Regions from separate parts of the Homo sapiens genome. Here region 2 is linked to region 1. The links come from fine-mapping of genetic effects on gene expression. A gene starts in region 1. The other region holds a variant in brackets. All regions are shown on one strand. Distances are between the middles of the regions.

Evidence for each region.
Region 2: its variant is fine-mapped to the expression of VSIG10 in whole blood (INTERVAL, PIP above 0.99).

The regions. Positions count from the first base shown.
Region 1 is chr12:118,100,703-118,109,032 of GRCh38, reverse strand. It overlaps VSIG10 (V-set and immunoglobulin domain containing 10), which reads left to right and starts at 5,022. Exons shown (of 9, transcript NM_019086.6): 1 at 5,022-5,440. The coding sequence starts at 5,362. LOC124903029 (a long non-coding RNA gene) reads left to right here and starts at 5,451. Exons shown (of 2, transcript XR_007063478.1): 1 at 5,451-6,044; 2 at 6,766-7,428. RefSeq lists an enhancer at 2,572-3,287 and a silencer at 4,929-5,178.
Region 2 is chr12:118,064,433-118,072,696 of GRCh38, reverse strand. It overlaps VSIG10 (V-set and immunoglobulin domain containing 10), which reads left to right. Exons shown (of 9, transcript NM_019086.6): 6 at 1,228-1,338; 7 at 1,630-1,645; 8 at 4,100-4,320; 9 at 6,003-8,264. The coding sequence ends at 6,058. The region is part of intron 1 of LOC124903030 (a long non-coding RNA gene); the gene reads right to left. Among named protein-coding and RNA genes, the nearest start is that of WSB2, 7.4 kb to the right of the region's middle. The variant G/A (reference allele first, on the strand shown) is at 3,517.

The DNA of each region.
Region 1 (8,330 bases):
CTCAGCCTCCTGAGTAGCTAGGACTATAGGTGTGCCACTATGCCTGGCTAAGTTAAAAAAATCTGTAGAGACAAGGTTTCACTATGTTGCTCAGGGTGATCTTGAACTCCTGAGCTCAAGTGATCCTCCAGCCTCAGCCTCCCAAAGTGCCAAGATTATGGGTGTGAGCTACTGCATCTGGCCCTGGCTAATTAAAAAAAAAATTTTTTTTTTTGAGACATGGGGGTCTTGCCATGTTGCCCCATGGTGGTCTCAAGCTCTTGGCCTCAAGAAGTCTTCCAGCCTAGGCCTCAAAGCCCAACCTAGTTTATCTTTACAACATCCCATGAGATAAATATTAGGTCTATTTTGCTGATAGGGAAACTTGGGCTCTAAAAGGACCCTACATTGCTGGGGACCCCATGCAAAACTCCCAACTCACTGAACATTGTTCTAGGCAGGGTACTTTCTACTGTCCAGAGTGACCTGAAATGCAAGTGGACATCAGGGCAGCTCCTTACACAGCTTCTGACTCAGGGCTGGCTTGAGCCCCTGCAGTCAAAACAAAGAGGGTGGTGTTTTCCAGGCCAGCTCTGCTCAGGTGAAGGCTGGTGTCTGATCATCCAGTGACACACAGAGCATTCAGATGCATGTCCCCTTAGCCCTGGCAGCCTTTGCACATGTGACAAATGTGCAACTTTGTGGGGCTGGAGTTGCAGTCACACAGTCAGTCGTGGCTTTACCACCAGCCAGCCGGCTGTGTGACTCAGAGTTAACCTCCCAGAGCTGTAGGTTGCTCACTTATAAAACTGGATGGCCGGCCAGGCGTGGTGGCTCACGCCTGTAATCCCAGCATTTTGGGAGGCTGAGGCAGGCAGATCACTTGAGGTCAGGAGTTCAAGACCAATCTGGCCAACAAGGTGAAACCCCATCTCTTCTAAAAATACAAAAATTAGCCAGGTGTGGTGGCGTGAACCTGTAATCCCAGCTACTTGGGAGACGGAGGCAGGAGAATGGCTTGAACCCAGGAGGCGGAGGCTGCAGTGAGCGGAAATCATGCCACTGCACTCCAGCCTGGGGGACAGAGCAAGACTCCATCTCAAAAATAAATAAATAAAACCGATGGTATGTGGCACTGCACCTTAGGTCCAAGGGTTGCAGGGAGGGTCCAGTGAGATTAGAACTATGCATCGACCTCGCCAATATGTCAGGAAGGCCGCCCTGGGCAAGCCACCATGAGGCCATGGAGAATTCCAGGCCCTCTGCTGAAAACTGGCCAGTTATTGGTTTTATTTTTTTAATTAAAAATATTTATTTATTTATTTATTTATTTATTTATTTATTTATTTATTTTGAGCAGTGTCTCTCTGTGTTGTCCAGGCTGGAGTGCAGTGGCACAATCTCAGCTCACTACAACCTCCACCTCCCAGGTTCCAGCAACCCTCCTGCCTCAGCCTTTCAAGTAGCTGGGATTACGAGCATGCGCCACCATGCCCAGCTAATTTTTTATTTTTAGTAGAGATGGGGTTTCACTGTGTTGGCTAGGCTGGTCTCGAACTCCTGACCTCAAGGGATCTGCCCACCTTGGCTTTCCTGAGTGCTGGGATTATAGGCATGAGCCACCTTGCCTGGCCCAGTTACTGATTTTATTTACCGCTTGTTTATTGCAGGTGAGGATGTAAGGTGTTTGCCAGAAAAGCTGAGGAACTACAATATCAAAACTAATCAATTCTCATTTGTTTACTCAACAAATGTATATTAGAATGGCAACTAGCTGGCAGGTACTGAGGATACAGGAAACAGGTCTGGTTAGTATAGGATCTCCACAAGGTCAAACATGAAAAGCAAGAACCAAGTTGGGTGCAGTGGCTCATGCCTGTAATTCCAGCACTCTGGGAGGATTGACTTAAGCCTAGGAGGTTGAGGCTGCAGTGAGGTATGATTACACCACTGCACTTCAGCCTGGATGATATAGGGAGACTCTGTCTAAAAAAAAAAAAAAAAAAAAATTCCAGGCCGGGTGTGGTGGCTCACGCGTGTAATCCCAGCACTTTGGGAAGCCGAGGCAGGTGGATCACGAGGTCAGGAGATCGAGACCATCCTGGCTAACTGAAGGGGTGGGTTGCCCCTCCACACCTGTGGGTGTTTCTCGTAAGGTGGAACGAGAGACTTGGAAAAGAAAAAGACACAGAGACAAAGTATAGAGAAAGAAATAAGGGGACCCGGGGAACCAGCGTTCAGCATATGGAGGATCCCGCCAGCCTCTGAGTTCCCTTAGTATTTATTGATCATTCGTGGGTGTTTCTCCGAGAGGGGGATGTGTCAGGGTCACAAGACAATTGTGGGGAGAGGGTCAGCAGACAAACACGTGAACAAAGGTCTATGCATCATAGACAAGGTAAAGGATTAAGTGCTGTGCTTTTAGATATGCATACACATAAACATCTCAATGCTTTACAAAGCAGTATTGCTGCCCGCAGGTCCCACCTCCAGCCCTAAGGCGGTTTTTCCCTATCTCAGTAGATGGAACGTACAATCGGGTTTTATACCGAGACATTCCATTGCCCAGGGAGGGGCAGGAGACAGATGCCTTCCTCTTGTCTCAACTGCAAGAGGCATGCCTTCCTCTTATATTAATCCTCCTCAGCACAGACCCTTTACGGGTGTCGGGCTGGGGGCAGTCAGGTCTTTCCCTTCCCACAAGGCCATATTTCAGACTATCACATGGGGAGAAACCTTGGACAATACCTGGCTTTCCTAGGCAGAGGTCCCTGCGGCCTTCCGCAGTGTTTGTGTCCCTGGGTACTTGAGATTAGGGAGTGGTGATGACTCTTAAGGAGCATGCTGCCTTCAAGCATCTGTTTAACAAAGCACATCTTGCACCGCCCTTAATCCATTTAACCCTGAGTTTGACACAGCACATGTTTCAGAGAGCACGGGGTTGGGGGTAAGGTCACAGAATCTCAAGGCAGAAGAATTTTTCTTAGTACATAACAAAATGGAGTCTCCCATGTCTACTTCTTTCTACACAGACACAGTAACAATCTGATCTCTCTTGCTTTTCCCCACACTAACACGGTGAAACCCCGTCTCCACTAAAAATACAAAAATTATCCGGGCGTGGTGGCAGGAGCCTGTAGTCCCAGCTACTTGGGAGGCTGAGGCAGGAGAATGGCATGAGCCTGGGAGGCGGAGCTTGCAGCGACAGAGCGAGACTCCGTCTCAAAAAACAAACAAACAAAATTCCTGTCAAGAATCTGATGAACAGTTATTTTATTTTATTTTTTATTTATTTATTTTTTTTGAGACGAAGTCTCGCTCTTCTCCCCAGGCTGGAGTGCAATGGCGCGATCTCGGCTCACTGCAACCTCCACCTCCTGGGTTCAAGCGATTCTCCTGCCTCAGCCTCCCAAGTAGCTGGGATTACAGGCGCCTGCCACCACACCGGGCTAATTTTTGTATTTTTAGTAGAGACGAAGTTTCACCATGTTGGCCAGGCTACTCTCGAACTCCTTACCTCAGGTGATCCACCTGCCTCGGCCTCCCAAAGTGCTGGGATTACAGGCATGAGCCAACGTGCCCGGCTGATGAACAGTTATTTAAAAATATTTGAGCAAAGAATAAAAAAGGGCTGAGCGCGGTGGCTCGCACCTGTAATCCCAACACTTTGGCAGGCCAAGGCGGGTGGATCACTTGAGGTCAGGAGTTCGAGACCAGCCTGGGTAACATGGAGAAACGCTGTCTTTACTAAAATTACAAAAATTAGCTGGGCGTGGTGCTGCACACCTGTAGTCCCAGCTACTCGGGAGGCTGAGGTGGGAGGATCACTTGAGCCTGGTAGTTTGAGGCTGCAGCGAGGTATGATTGTGCTACTGCACTCTAGCCTGGGCAACTGGAGTGACACCCTGTCTCAAAAAAATAAAAAACAGAAAAGTAAAAAAGGCAGAACTGTTCAGCTTCATTGCTCAGTTCACCAGGAGAAACATTTTTTTTTTAAAGTGGTTTCAAGAGGATTTCCTCATGGAAGAAGCATTTCAATAAGGGGACCGTTGAACAACAGAACTAATGATTTTTTTTTAACGTTAATATTTATTTTGAGATGGAGTCTCGCTCAGTCGCCCAGGCTGGAGTGCAATGGCGTGATATCGGCTCACTGCAACCTCCGCCTGCTGGGTTCAAGCGATTCTCCTGCCTCAGCCTACCCAGTAGCTGGGATTACAGGCGCCCGCCATCATGCCCGGCTAATTGTTGTATTTTTAGTAGAGACAGGGTTTCACCATGTTGGTCAGGCTGGTCTCGAACTCCTGACCTTGTGATCCGCCCACCTCGGCCTCCCAAAGTGCTGGGATTACAGGTGTGAGCCACCACGCCCTGCCATATTATTATTATTTGAAACAGGAAGTTTCTCCTAGGGCTGTTTTATGGATGGCTCTTCCTGAGGATATCAAAGCCGCATTTTCCCCAGGACAGAATGGGATGAGGGCATGGCAGGGAAGAGAGGAGCTTAGCCTGGGAATCTGACTGGGTAAGGGGTGGGAGAACTAAAAGGGGAAAAGCAAAAACAAAACTCTTGAGAAACACGTCCTGGGGACTCCTTGGCTCTCGCTGTCACTGTGTGGTCCCAGCCAGTTCACTGGAGAACCGGAGTCTCGTGGCTGCTTTGGCTGAAAGTCAGGGGATCATCTTTCTCTGGCTCCCTTTTGCAGAGGGTAAGGAAAGGAAGCGATGGCGGCCTTGGCGCCCGCCCTGCGCCCAGGGACACAGACCGGAATCCCTCGAGACGCTCAGCGGGGACTGCCAGGGGGGTCCTGCGTTCTGCAGCTTGGCAACCGCTTCCTCCGGGTTCTGCAGCCCGGGGCAGCGGCGGGGGTTGCGTCCTGCGGCAGCTGCAGGGCTCCGTCCCGCCCGCTGTCCCCGCGACTCGGTACTGCTGTCCCGGGCGGAGTGGACTGGGGAGGGCCCAGCCTCCGCGCCCCGCCCCTGGCCCGGCGGGACCCGGCTCGGCGCGCCCTCGGCAGAAAGCCCTCCTCCCGGGCCAAGGTAGAGGAAGTTGGGCTCCCGCCTGGCTGGGAGGCGGGAGGGATCCCGCTCCTGTTGTTTTCCGCCGGCAGGAGTAGGCTGGCGGGCGCAGGGGGCGGGGTGCGCCCTCCCTCCCCGGCCAGGGCGCTCGGGAGCGGGGACCCGAGCCTGCAGCCGAGCTCCGCTGCCGGCCCTGGACACTCGGCTCAGCCAAGCATCCTTCCTGGGGGCCGAGGAAGTGGGGCCACTCTGCCGTTCCGAGGACCTGGGAGGAGCCCTCGGTACCCCGGGCCCCGGGGCCCTGGGGCACACACGTCCAGCCCAGCCCGAGCCTGCGTTTCCTGAGCCGGGATCTGGGGCGAGATGGCCGCAGGCGGCAGTGCGCCCGAGCCCCGCGTCCTCGTCTGCCTCGGGGCGCTCCTGGCCGGCTGGGTCGCCGTAGGTAAGGGGCCGCGATCTGGAGGGAAAAGTTGAGTTTTCCCAGTCAGCGGTGGGGAGGGGACAGCGAGAGACCCAATTCCCTCCGACTCCGCCCGGATCCGTGGTGGCCCCAGCCTAGAAGCTGCCCCAGGAGGGTCTTGGTTTCCTGCTCGCAGCTCGGCCGTCTTTGCAGGAAGGAGTTTTCCCGGGCGCCCGGTGCGGGGCGAGATACCCCCAGCCTCCTGGGGTGGGCAGCCGGTGAGGCTGCAGAGGAGCCGAGCCGAGCCGACGTGCGGGGGCAAAGTAAAGAGGCACGTGTGCCGGGAAAGTGATTTTTTTTTTTAAGCGTCGGATGTAAATTCGCGTTCTGGTTTTAGTAGTAACTGATACGCTGGTGCTCAAACTCGAGACTCCCACTTTATTTTTCTCCTCCCTCTGCCCAAGGTTGAACTCGCCTTACACCTGTAACCGGTGGACTTCCCTACACACCTTTGCAAGTCTTCCTGTGCCGACCAGCGCCTTCAAAGCGGGGTCTTCCGCCTTTACTTTTGGAAAAGCTTTTTATTTTGAAATACTTGGCTGACTTACAAAAGACTTCCCCTCACACTTGACATGATTGACAAAAGGTCTGAAATGCTTCATCTATGGTCTGCTTTGCTACGAAAAAAGAATTGGAGGGGTGCTTACAAAAATATGTAGAATGTAAAAAGATTGAACTATTTATATATATTTGAATTTAATTCACCAGCATGCCTACTGTGCATGCCTACTGTGTGCTGGGAGTGTGACAAGCTGGGAGGAGGCTGGGGTGCAGGGAGAGGAGATGGAGCCAGGAGGTGGTGAAGTTTGCCAGGATGCAGGCAGAGCGCTACTTTTTGTGTTCCCGGGTCTGCTCCACCCAACGGGTCTCCTCTTGCACGTTTCTGGAGATGGGTTGTAAAGTATGCTGGAGCTTCTTAGCAGCAAGTGCCAAGAGTTCCTAATTATTAGGCTCATACAATTTTATTTTGCTTTTTTTTTTTTAACCAACCATTTAAAAACAATAACATCTCTAGATTTCCAGTTTATCTGGAAAAATCTGAAGGTCTGGCAACACGGGGCCTGCTTTCCCAGTTGGAATTGGGCAGTGGTCATCCTCTTATCTAGGGCATATGAGCCCAAATTTGTTCCACCTCTCCCTGTTGTAATATTTGCCCCGCCACCTTCAGTCATGGGTGTTACCTGCTGGCCCTGCAGGCATTTGGCTGAGTAATCACTGTGCTGGGGTGTGGGTGATGGGGGAGGACAGTTCCTAGTTGGTCATCTCTGGACGTGAAAGGTGGTTGTCAAGTATTCCCATCTCCCCAGCTGTTTGCAGTGTTTCCTGCACGATGAACACCAGGAACCTGGGAAGTGAGAAGAACCCTGGGATGAAGTCATCCTGCTGGAATGACCTGGCTTTCAGGCTGACTGCCACCCGCCCCATGGGGAACCTATCTCCACTGCTATGGCCAGCTATTTTTTTCGAGCCAGGCTCTCGCTCTGTTGCCCAGGCTGGAGTGCAGTGGTGCAATCACTGCACTGATCCTCCCACCTCAGCCTACAAGTAGCTGGGACTACAGGCGTGCACCACCACGCCTAGCTAATTTCTAAAATTTTTTTGTAGAGACGGTCTCTACAATCGCTTGAGCCCAGGCTGGTCTTAAACTCCTGGACCCAAGCGATCCTCCTGTCTCGGCCTCCCAAAGTGTTGGGATTATGGGTGTGAGCCACCGTGTTGGGCCTTTGCCCAGCTATTTTGATGCCCAGACCTGCTTCACCTTTGTGTATGATGCCAGGGGGCTTCCTGAGCTTGGTGTATTTTTGTTGTGTGTTTGTTTTTTAAGTTGGGAGTTTTTGGGGAAAAAAATTTTTCTCCTGACATTCAATGCCAGACAACTTATATGCATCCACTAGCTACCCCGGATTGTAAATCCTAGGTTATTCTTGGGAAAAGTTGCTTTAAAAAAATAAATAAATGTTTGGGTATAACTCCTACTCTGTAAATAATAATACATGGGCAGCATCAGGGAGTTTATATTACTCCCTCTTCGGTTCTCTATTGTACATTTAAGGTTGGGGGGCAAGAAGGACCCTCTGGACACCATATGAATGACTTCTAAACTTGTTACTATATTTTATCATTGCATCCTGTCTGGTGCAGGAGACCAGAGTAACGTGACCTGAGTGACAATCCCACATCTCCCAGTGATTTGCTTGGGACTTTAAGTGATAACTTAATCTTCCTAAATCTCAATTTTCTCAGTAGTAAAGTGAGGAGGTTTAGGACTGCCAGGCAAGAACTACCCCTTCCATGTCTATGTCAGACATCACTAAATCGATGACTGTGTTCTTTTCCACTGAACCAGGACTCAATCTCATCTTCAACCCAGCCCACAGGGCAGCCACATCTCTGGACTAGATGATCTCCAAGGGCACCTTCAGATACAGTGGTTTAAAAAAGAACGGAGTAAGCCAAACCAGGAGAAGTGAAATGTCTTCAAATGGTTTCTTTTGTGATCATGTCATTCTATGCCTTGGAGGAGAAAACAATGTTAGCTCAAGTTCCAAGACTAAAGTTTCACCACGGCTTTTTTCCAAGCCACTGTTCCTTTATTTCTTTGCCAAGGAGTTAGGCAAGGGGCAGGTCTGCAGGTTGCATGAACACATGTTGCATCTGTAACTCTGAAGTTCATCTTCCTTTCCATTGTGGCGGTTGCCACTGGATAATTTGGGTTCCCAATCCTAATAATTTAAAAATAATTCTTGGCTGGGTGCGGTGGCTCCCGCCTGTAATCCCAGCACTTTTGGAGGCCGAAGTGGGCAGATCACCTGAGGTCAGGAGTTCAAGACCAGCCTGGCCAACACAGTGAAACCCTGTCTCTACAAAAATA
Region 2 (8,264 bases), 36 kb after region 1:
TTATACAGATGAGGTCGCACTGTGTTGACCAGGTTGGTCTTGAACTCCTGGCCTGAAGTGAGCCTCCCATCTCAGCCTCCCAAAGTGTTGAGATTGCAAGCATGAGCCACCACACCTGGCCTCTTTCTTCCCTTCCCTTCTCCCTTTTCCTTTCTCTTCTCCCTTTTCCCTTTCCTACCTTCCTTCTTTTCTTTCCCTCCCCTCCCCTCCTCTTTCTTTCTTTTTTTTTTTTGAGACGGAGTCTTGCTCTGTCACCCAGGCTGGAGTGCAGTGGTGCGATCTCGGCTCACTGCAAGCTCCACCTCCTGGGTTCATGCCATTCTCCTGCCTCAGCCTCCCAAGTAGCTGGGACTGCAGGCGCCCGCCGCTGTGCCCGGCTAATTTTTTGTATTTTTAGTAGAGATGGGGTTTCACTGTGTTAGCCAGGATGGTCTCGACCTCCTGACCTCGTGATCCGCCTGCCTCGGCCTCCCAAAGTGCTGGGATTACAGGCGTGAGCCACCGCGCCCGGCCCTCTTTCTTTCTTTGAGATGGAATTTCGCTCTTGTTGCCCAGGCTGGAGTGCAATGGCGCGATCTTGGCTCACCGCAACCCCCGCCTCCCGGGTTCAAGTGATTCTCCTGCCTCAGCCTCCCAAGTAGCTGGGATTACAGACATGCACCACCACACCTGGCTAATTTTGTATTTTTAGTAGAGACGGGGTTTTAACATGTTGGTCAGGCTGGTCTCGATCTCCCGACTTCAGGTGATCCGCCCTCCTCAGCCTCCCAAAGTGCTGGGATTACAGGCATGCGCCACTGCGCCCGGGCTCTAGTACCAATTCTTAAATAGTGCTTCCTTTGCTCAAGACCCTGTCATATATCAATTATACTTACGTGTGGACCCGTTCCTGGACTCTCTGTTCTGTTCCGTTGATCACTCTGTTTATCATGGCATTGATAACTCTCAACACTCTTACTTACCATGGCCTTAGAAATAGTCTCAGTGTTTGGTAGACAGAGAGATTTTAACTTTCCATTGTTTGTTCACATTCCCTGCTCCATCTGATCCCCACAAACTCTCTGAGGTTGGGTGATAAAATATTTATCTGGCATTACAGACAGGTCATAAGCCTTACCCAAGGTCAGGAATCAAGACAAGAACTGGATCCACGCAGAGAAAGGGAGGTGTTGTTCTAATTGCACACATATCTGATGGAAGAATCAATGGTGTGATTTGTCTTTACAGAACCTTTAAATATCGGGGGGATTGTGGGAACCATTGTGAGCCTCCTTCTGCTGGGACTGGCCATTATCTCAGGGCTTCTGTTGCATTATAGCCCTGTGTTCTGCTGGAAAGGTAAGGACTCCCTGGGTCCTTTAGCTTCTCTTCCAGACTTTTGAAAAGGTGCGGGATGGGGAAGGATGGCCCCTGCCTTGCTCCCACCTGAAGTTCTGTTCTCTGGGCTTCTTTGCTGGGTCAAGATACACAGTAATAAGTCACCTAAGTACCATCCCGGGACACCCTATCACCTGTCATATTGAGTCAGTTTTCTTATTTGTTCCTCTAGTAAATGTTTGCCTGATTAAGAACCTGTCAGGTTGAAGTGGATGTTACTGGATATTAATGGTTTTTCCTTTCTCTCTTCAGTAGGAAACACTTCCAGGTGAGTGTTCCCTAGAATCAAACCAAACACCCATTCCCGCATCTGTCTTCACTTCTGTTTTGTTCCCTTCCTTTCACAAGAACAATAATAGCAACTACCATTGAGGACCTACGATGTGCTAGACACTGGCCTAGGGATTTCATCAGGTATTCTTATAAACCCTTTCATCATCTCCTCAGGGTGGTGGTGACATCTCCATTTTCCAGATAAGGGGATGGAGGCTCAGTGAAGTAATTTCTGCAAGCTCATTCCAGAAGAAAGCAGCAGTGCCTTCCTTCAGGTCCAGGTCTAATCAATTCCAAAGTCTGTGTTCTTTTACAGCGCCAAACCTCAGGGCTGGACACATTGCAGGTCTGTCATTGAGACAGAAAGACAATGTGTACATTTTGAGCCAGTCATTCATGCATTTGTTTTATTTAATTTTCTAAAAAGAGCTAAAAGAAAGAATCAGTCATAGTCTTAAGTTTTTTTTTCTTTTTCTTTTTTCTTTTTTTTTTTTTTTTTGAGACAGAATCTCTCTCTCTTGCTCAGGCTGGAGTGCAGTGGTGCAGTCTCAGCTCACTGCAATCCCTACCTCCCAGGTTGAGGCCATTCTCCTGCCTCAGCCTTCCGAGTAGTTGGGATTACAGGTGCGCACCATCAAGCCTGGCTAATTTTTGTATTTTTAGTAGAGACAGGGTTTCACCATGTTGCCCAGGCTAGTCTCAAACTCCTGGCCTCAAGTGGTCTGCCCGCCTCGGCCTCCCAAAGTGCCGGGATTACAGGCACGAGCCACTGCACCCAGCCAGTTTTACAGTGTTTTGGAAGACTACTATGAGCATGCCCAGAACCCCCTCCCAAAAGGAAACCCCAGTAGGGGCGAAGGAACCAAACGGAACTTGTGTATTTCATTTCCTAAGGAGATTCTGGGTGGGAGCAGAGTACTCTTCTCTATGATCCTATGGAAAAACAGTTCTTTACCTCTTCAAAATGACAGGATATTATTGACCTGGGACCATCTTTCGTAGCAAAACATTACCTTTACTGCCCTGTATTGGAGGGCCATTCTTAGTAAGTCTGTCATTCCCTGGGCTTATTTCTCACTGGAGGCATCAGTGTGGTGTAGTAGGAAAAGGCACTGAGACCATTGGACCTGGGTTCAAATGACAGCTGTGCCATTCCCAAGCCCTGTACCCATAGAAAATCCCTGACCCTTTCTGAGCCTTAGTCTCCTGATTTGTTTCACCAGGGGGTTTGTGAAGATTAAATGACAATGTAACACAGCTCCTCGGGCAGGTGACTGACCTGTGGCGTTCATTCTTCTTCCTTAAGAAATGCATAGTCCAGGCCGGGTGCAGTGGCTCACGCCTGTAATCCCAGCACTTTGGGAGGCCGAGGCGGGTGGATCACCTGAGGTCGGGAGTTCGAGACCAGCCTGACCAACATGCAGAAACCCCATCTCTACTAAAAATACAAAAAATTAGCCGCATGTAGTGGCGCATGCCTGTAATCCCAGCTGCTTGGGAGGTTGAAGCAGGAGAATTGCTTGAACCTGGGAGGCAGAGGTTGCGGTGAGCCATGATTGTGCCATTGCACTCCAGCCTGGGCAACAAGAATGAAACTCTGTCTCAAAAAAAAAAAAAAAAAGAAGAAGAAGAAGAAGAAGAAATGCACAGTCCAGGCCGGGCACAACAGTGGCTCATGCCTATAATCTCAGCACTCTGGGAGGCCAAGGTGGTTGGATCACTTGAGGCCAGGCATTCGAGACCAGCCTGGCCAACATGTTGAAACCATGTCTCTACTAAAAATACAAAAATTAGCCAGATGTGGTGGCGCATGCCTGTAGTCCCAGCTACTTGGGTGGCTGAGGCAGGAGAATTGCTTGCACCCAG[G/A]AGGTGGAGGTTGCAGTGAGCCAAGATTGCGCCACTGCACTCTAGCCTGGGCAACAGCGCAAGACTCTATCCCGAAAAAGAAAAAAAAAAGAAATGTATAGTCTGAAATGCAAAGTCTGGCTGGGTAGGCAAGCTAGTGAGCTGGTGATAAATAAACTATAGCATGGACTCTAAATGCAGTCATTAATTTAGGTCTTTAGCAGGAGGGAGAGGACTTTACCTGGGTCTTCCAAAATGAGGAAGGGGAGAGATTTTGGTAAGTAGAGCAGAATGAGGGCATTTCAGAAAAGGAAAAACATTTGTCTACCTGCTGTAAGGGGACATGAAATGGTAGATGCCTGGGACAATATGGTCACCTGCCCAAGGAGCAGGGGAGTAATAAACCAGCATGAGATACCATCATCTGAAGCAATTTGTGGCAGCATCTCTGCGGTTACCACACCATCACCTCATTACTTCACCAAGCTGTAATTTTCCATATTACTAATGGGGTTGCAAAGAATCTAGTGTTTCCTATTCAGTGAGGGCTGAAGTTGGGAAAAATAAGAAATCTTCTTGATTATTTTTCCCCTTTGGAAATTAGGGGACAAAACATGGATGATGTCATGGTTTTGGTGGATTCAGAAGAGGAAGAGGAGGAGGAGGAGGAGGAGGAGGAAGATGCTGCAGTAGGGGAACAGGAGGGAGCACGTGAGAGAGAGGAGTTGCCAAAAGAAATACCTAAGCAGGACCACATTCACAGAGTGACCGCCTTGGTGAATGGGAACATAGAACAGATGGGAAATGGATTCCAGGATCTTCAAGGTAAGCTCTTTTTCCTTAAACAAACAAACAGAAAACAAACAAAAAAAGGCGCGTTGGCTCACGCCTATAATCCCAGCACTTTGGGAGGCCAAGGTGGGAAGATCACTTAAGCCCAGAAGTTCAAGACTAGCCTGGGCAACATGGTGAGACTCTGTCTCTACGAAAAAAAAAAAAAAAAAAAAGAAAAATTAGCCGGTCATGGTGGTGTGCACCTGTGTTCCCAGCTACTTGGGAGGCTGAGGATCACTTGAGTGTAGGAAGTCCAGGCTGCAGTGAGCTATGATCACACCACTGCACTCCAGTCTGGGCAGCAGTAGGAAACCTGCCTCAGAAAAAAAAAAAAAAAAAAAAAAGCCCACAAACCTCTGAACTGCTGCGGTGAGCTTCCCAGCAGGAAATCTCTAAGGGGTGAGTTTAGTTTTTTTAAAAGGCTGGGGAAGATAGCTAAACTTTAGTCTAGAACCTGAGACTACTATCAACTACCAACATGAAAATCAAATTGACAAACACTTATCAAGGTCCTGGTCTAGGGTAGGCACAATATTGGCATTGTGGGAGAACAGAAAATAGAGACTGGTAGTGTCTGCATGCAGGGAGCTTTACAAGACCAGTTCAGGCCAGGTGCGGTGGCTCACGCCTATAATCCCAGCATTTTGGGAGGCTGAGGCAGGTGGATCATTTGAGGTCAGGAGTTTGAGACCAGCCTGGCCAACATGGTGAGACCCCCATCTCTACTAAAAATACAAAAATCAGCTGGGTGTGGTAGGTGCCTGTAATCCCAGCTACTTGGGAGACCAAGGCAGGAGAATCACTTGAACCCGGGAGACGGAGGCTGCAGTGAGCCGAGATCGTGCCACTGCACTTCAGCCTGGGTGACAGAGTGAGACTCTGTCTCAAAAAAAAAAAAAAAAAGGCCAGTTTAGGGGAACAAACTAAAACCTGCAGGGGAAATGGAAACAGGAGCAAGATTGAACCAACACACTGAGAGAGCAGTAGAGGAGCTGTTGCAGGAAGATATTTGATTAATTGCCTGATGGACAACACATTTAAAAATTATAGGCACGGTTGCTCATGCCTGTAATCCCAGCACTTTGGGAGGCCAAAGTGGGTGGATCGCTGGAGCTCAGGAGTTCGAGACTAGCCTTGGGAACATGGCAAAACGTGTCTCTACTAAGAATACAAAAAATTAGCTGGGTGTGTGGCATGTACCTGTAGCCCCAGCTACTTGGGAGGCTGAGGTGGGAGAATCACCTGAGCCTGGGAAGTTGAGGCTGCAGTGAGATGAGATCGTGCCACTGCACCAAAATTTATAGGACCTCAGAGAAAGATAAGAGCCCGGAGAGGTGTGCTGGTCAGGGGAAGCTTTATGGAAGAGGTAGACATGAAGCAAGGCGTTAAGACGGCTGAGTTGGAATAAGCAGAAAGGAGAGAGGGCGTTTCAGGTGAGGGGAGGGGCGTGAGCTGAGGACATGAAGGGTGACTGGTATCAAGCATGCCTAGAGGTTCTGAATGTAGAAAACAGGTGAAAAGGGGAAAACACACGCTGCCCTACCTTCTCCATGAGATCCCATTCTGTGGCTCACCAGGAAAGGACTAGAAATCACTGAGATGATTGATGACTGACGGTGGAAATAGAATCACACTCTGATTACAAAGCATTGGGTTTATTTCCCCCCATACAGATGACAGCAGTGAGGAGCAAAGTGACATTGTTCAAGAAGAAGACAGGCCAGTCTGAAGAAGAGGATGGTCCATGGTTGTCTTGCTCTGAAAGCTTGGAGAGCTACATTGAAGACGAGCTCTTCATTCAGCTTTGACTCCACCTGCACCCCTGGCGGGGGCTTGCACTAACAATGTTTGGGTCTCAGCAAAAAACAAAACCAAGCACACACATCTTTCCTTCCATGTATTGAAAAACATTGGTTTGATTTGCTCTAAGTTTTCCCAATGATGTTTAAAAGCTTTGAGAAGGAAAGCTGCTTTGGTGTCTGAGGTGCCACTTCTGCTGTGAATCCTGGCTTTATCCAGGTTGATCTACTGTGATAGATGCTGATTTAGAGGGAACAGAGGTCAGGGAAGCACTGGGTCTTGGTGCCTTTTGCCGCTTTTTTTTTTTTTTTTTTTTTTTTTTGAGACGGAGTCTCCCTCTATTGCCCAGGCTGGAGTGCAATGGCACGATCTTGGCTCACCACAACTTCTGCCTCCCAGGTTCAAGCGATTCTCCTGCCTCAGCCACGGCACCTTGCAAATATCAGCTCCTTGGAACAGGTGAAGTTCCAGGTACCAATGCCAATCAGAGGAAGGCAGTTTGGTTCAGGCTTTGGAGTTAGAAACACCTGAAGTTGAATCTGGGCTCTGTTGCTTCCTTCTTTCATGGGCTAGAGCACGACTCTTTACCTCTCTCTTGGCCTCAATTTCCTCACCTGTAAAATAGATGAGGAAGCTGCTCACTTATTATTGTCTCGTTCTGAAAGCTTGGAAAGCTACATCGAAGATGAGCTCTTCATTCAGCTTTGATTTGACCTGTACCCCTGGTGGGGGATTGCACTGGCAACATTTGGGTCTCAGCAAAAAAACCAAGCACACACATCTTTCCTTCCATTTATTGAAAAACATCTTTGTAAGATCCATTCATTGAAAAACATAATCCATTTATTGAAAAATATCTTTGTAAGATCACCTGCTAAATATGAAAATCTGACTTGAATTTGTACTCTTTAAAGTTGCGTATCTGCTCTAGTGGGCAGGACCTAGGGCTTAAAGGGGAACTTCCTTTCTCCATTTCTAAGAACTGGGACTCTAAAATGAGAAGCTGGTTGTCTGAAGTAACCCTGCAGGTGTGGTTGGGGAAGGTCTGTTTTCTTGGATGAAGGAACTAAACTAAGCATATCAGAGCACTGTCTTAACCAGTTTTATTTCCCTGGAGATAGAATTCTTTTAAAAAGAGTTAGGGAGCTGGTAATAGGAAGTGCCTTTCATTATAACTACATTTTGCAGAGCTTCATATTTATATACAAGCCTCCTAGGTGATACACTGTTAGCTTGCAGACTTTCCTATGCTTCATTTCTCCTGTTGCTTTCAAAGAAGGCAGGAGACACGTTTAATAACGGAGTATCTGGTGATAAGAATTGCTTGGGCAAACCAGCTCATCTGGACTCTTTCTCAGTCTTGGAAGTGGGAAGAGGAAAACTTGTTTCCTTCCTGCTTCTTAAGGATATTCTGAGGGTACACTGATCAATAACACTAAATTTGGAATGAAAATACCATGTGATGAGTTTAGCCTGCTGATGCTTCCAGTAGATCCTTGTATAGTTTCAAGATTTAAGTTTTCCGATTTCATATAAATTTCTTAAAGTCGAGGACCTTATAAGGGTGCAATGGATGTTTGCTAAATATGAAAAACTGACTTGAATTTGCACTCTTTAATGTTGCGTATCTGCTCTAGTGGGCAGGACCTAGGGCTTAAAGGGGAACTTCCTTTCTCCAATTCTAGGAACTGGGACTCTAAAATGAGAAGCTGGTTGTCTGAAGTAACCCTGCAGGTGTGGTTGGGGAAGGTCTGTTTTCTTGGATGAAGGGATTAAACTGAGCAAATCACTAGAAGTATGCCCTGTCCCCTGCTCAGAACACTGGGGAGCTCAAGAGTGGGCTGCAATGTGCACCCCTCAGGAATAGCTGTGAATTGCAGGTCTACTGGCTTTTTGCTTTTTGTCTTTTGCTGCAAGGTACCCCACGTACTTAACCATTCTCAACAGTGTAAATCAGTGTCATTTTAGAATGAGATACTCAGCTTGCTTCTAAAGTCACTGAATTACTGAGTGAGTCTCTCCTTTAGAGTCTTCGGCAACCAAATTCCAGAATTGAAGAGTCTACTACTCAGAGGCAACAAGATTAAAAAAAGAAAACACAAAAACTGTTGAGGTGAAAAAAAAAAAAAACCCTA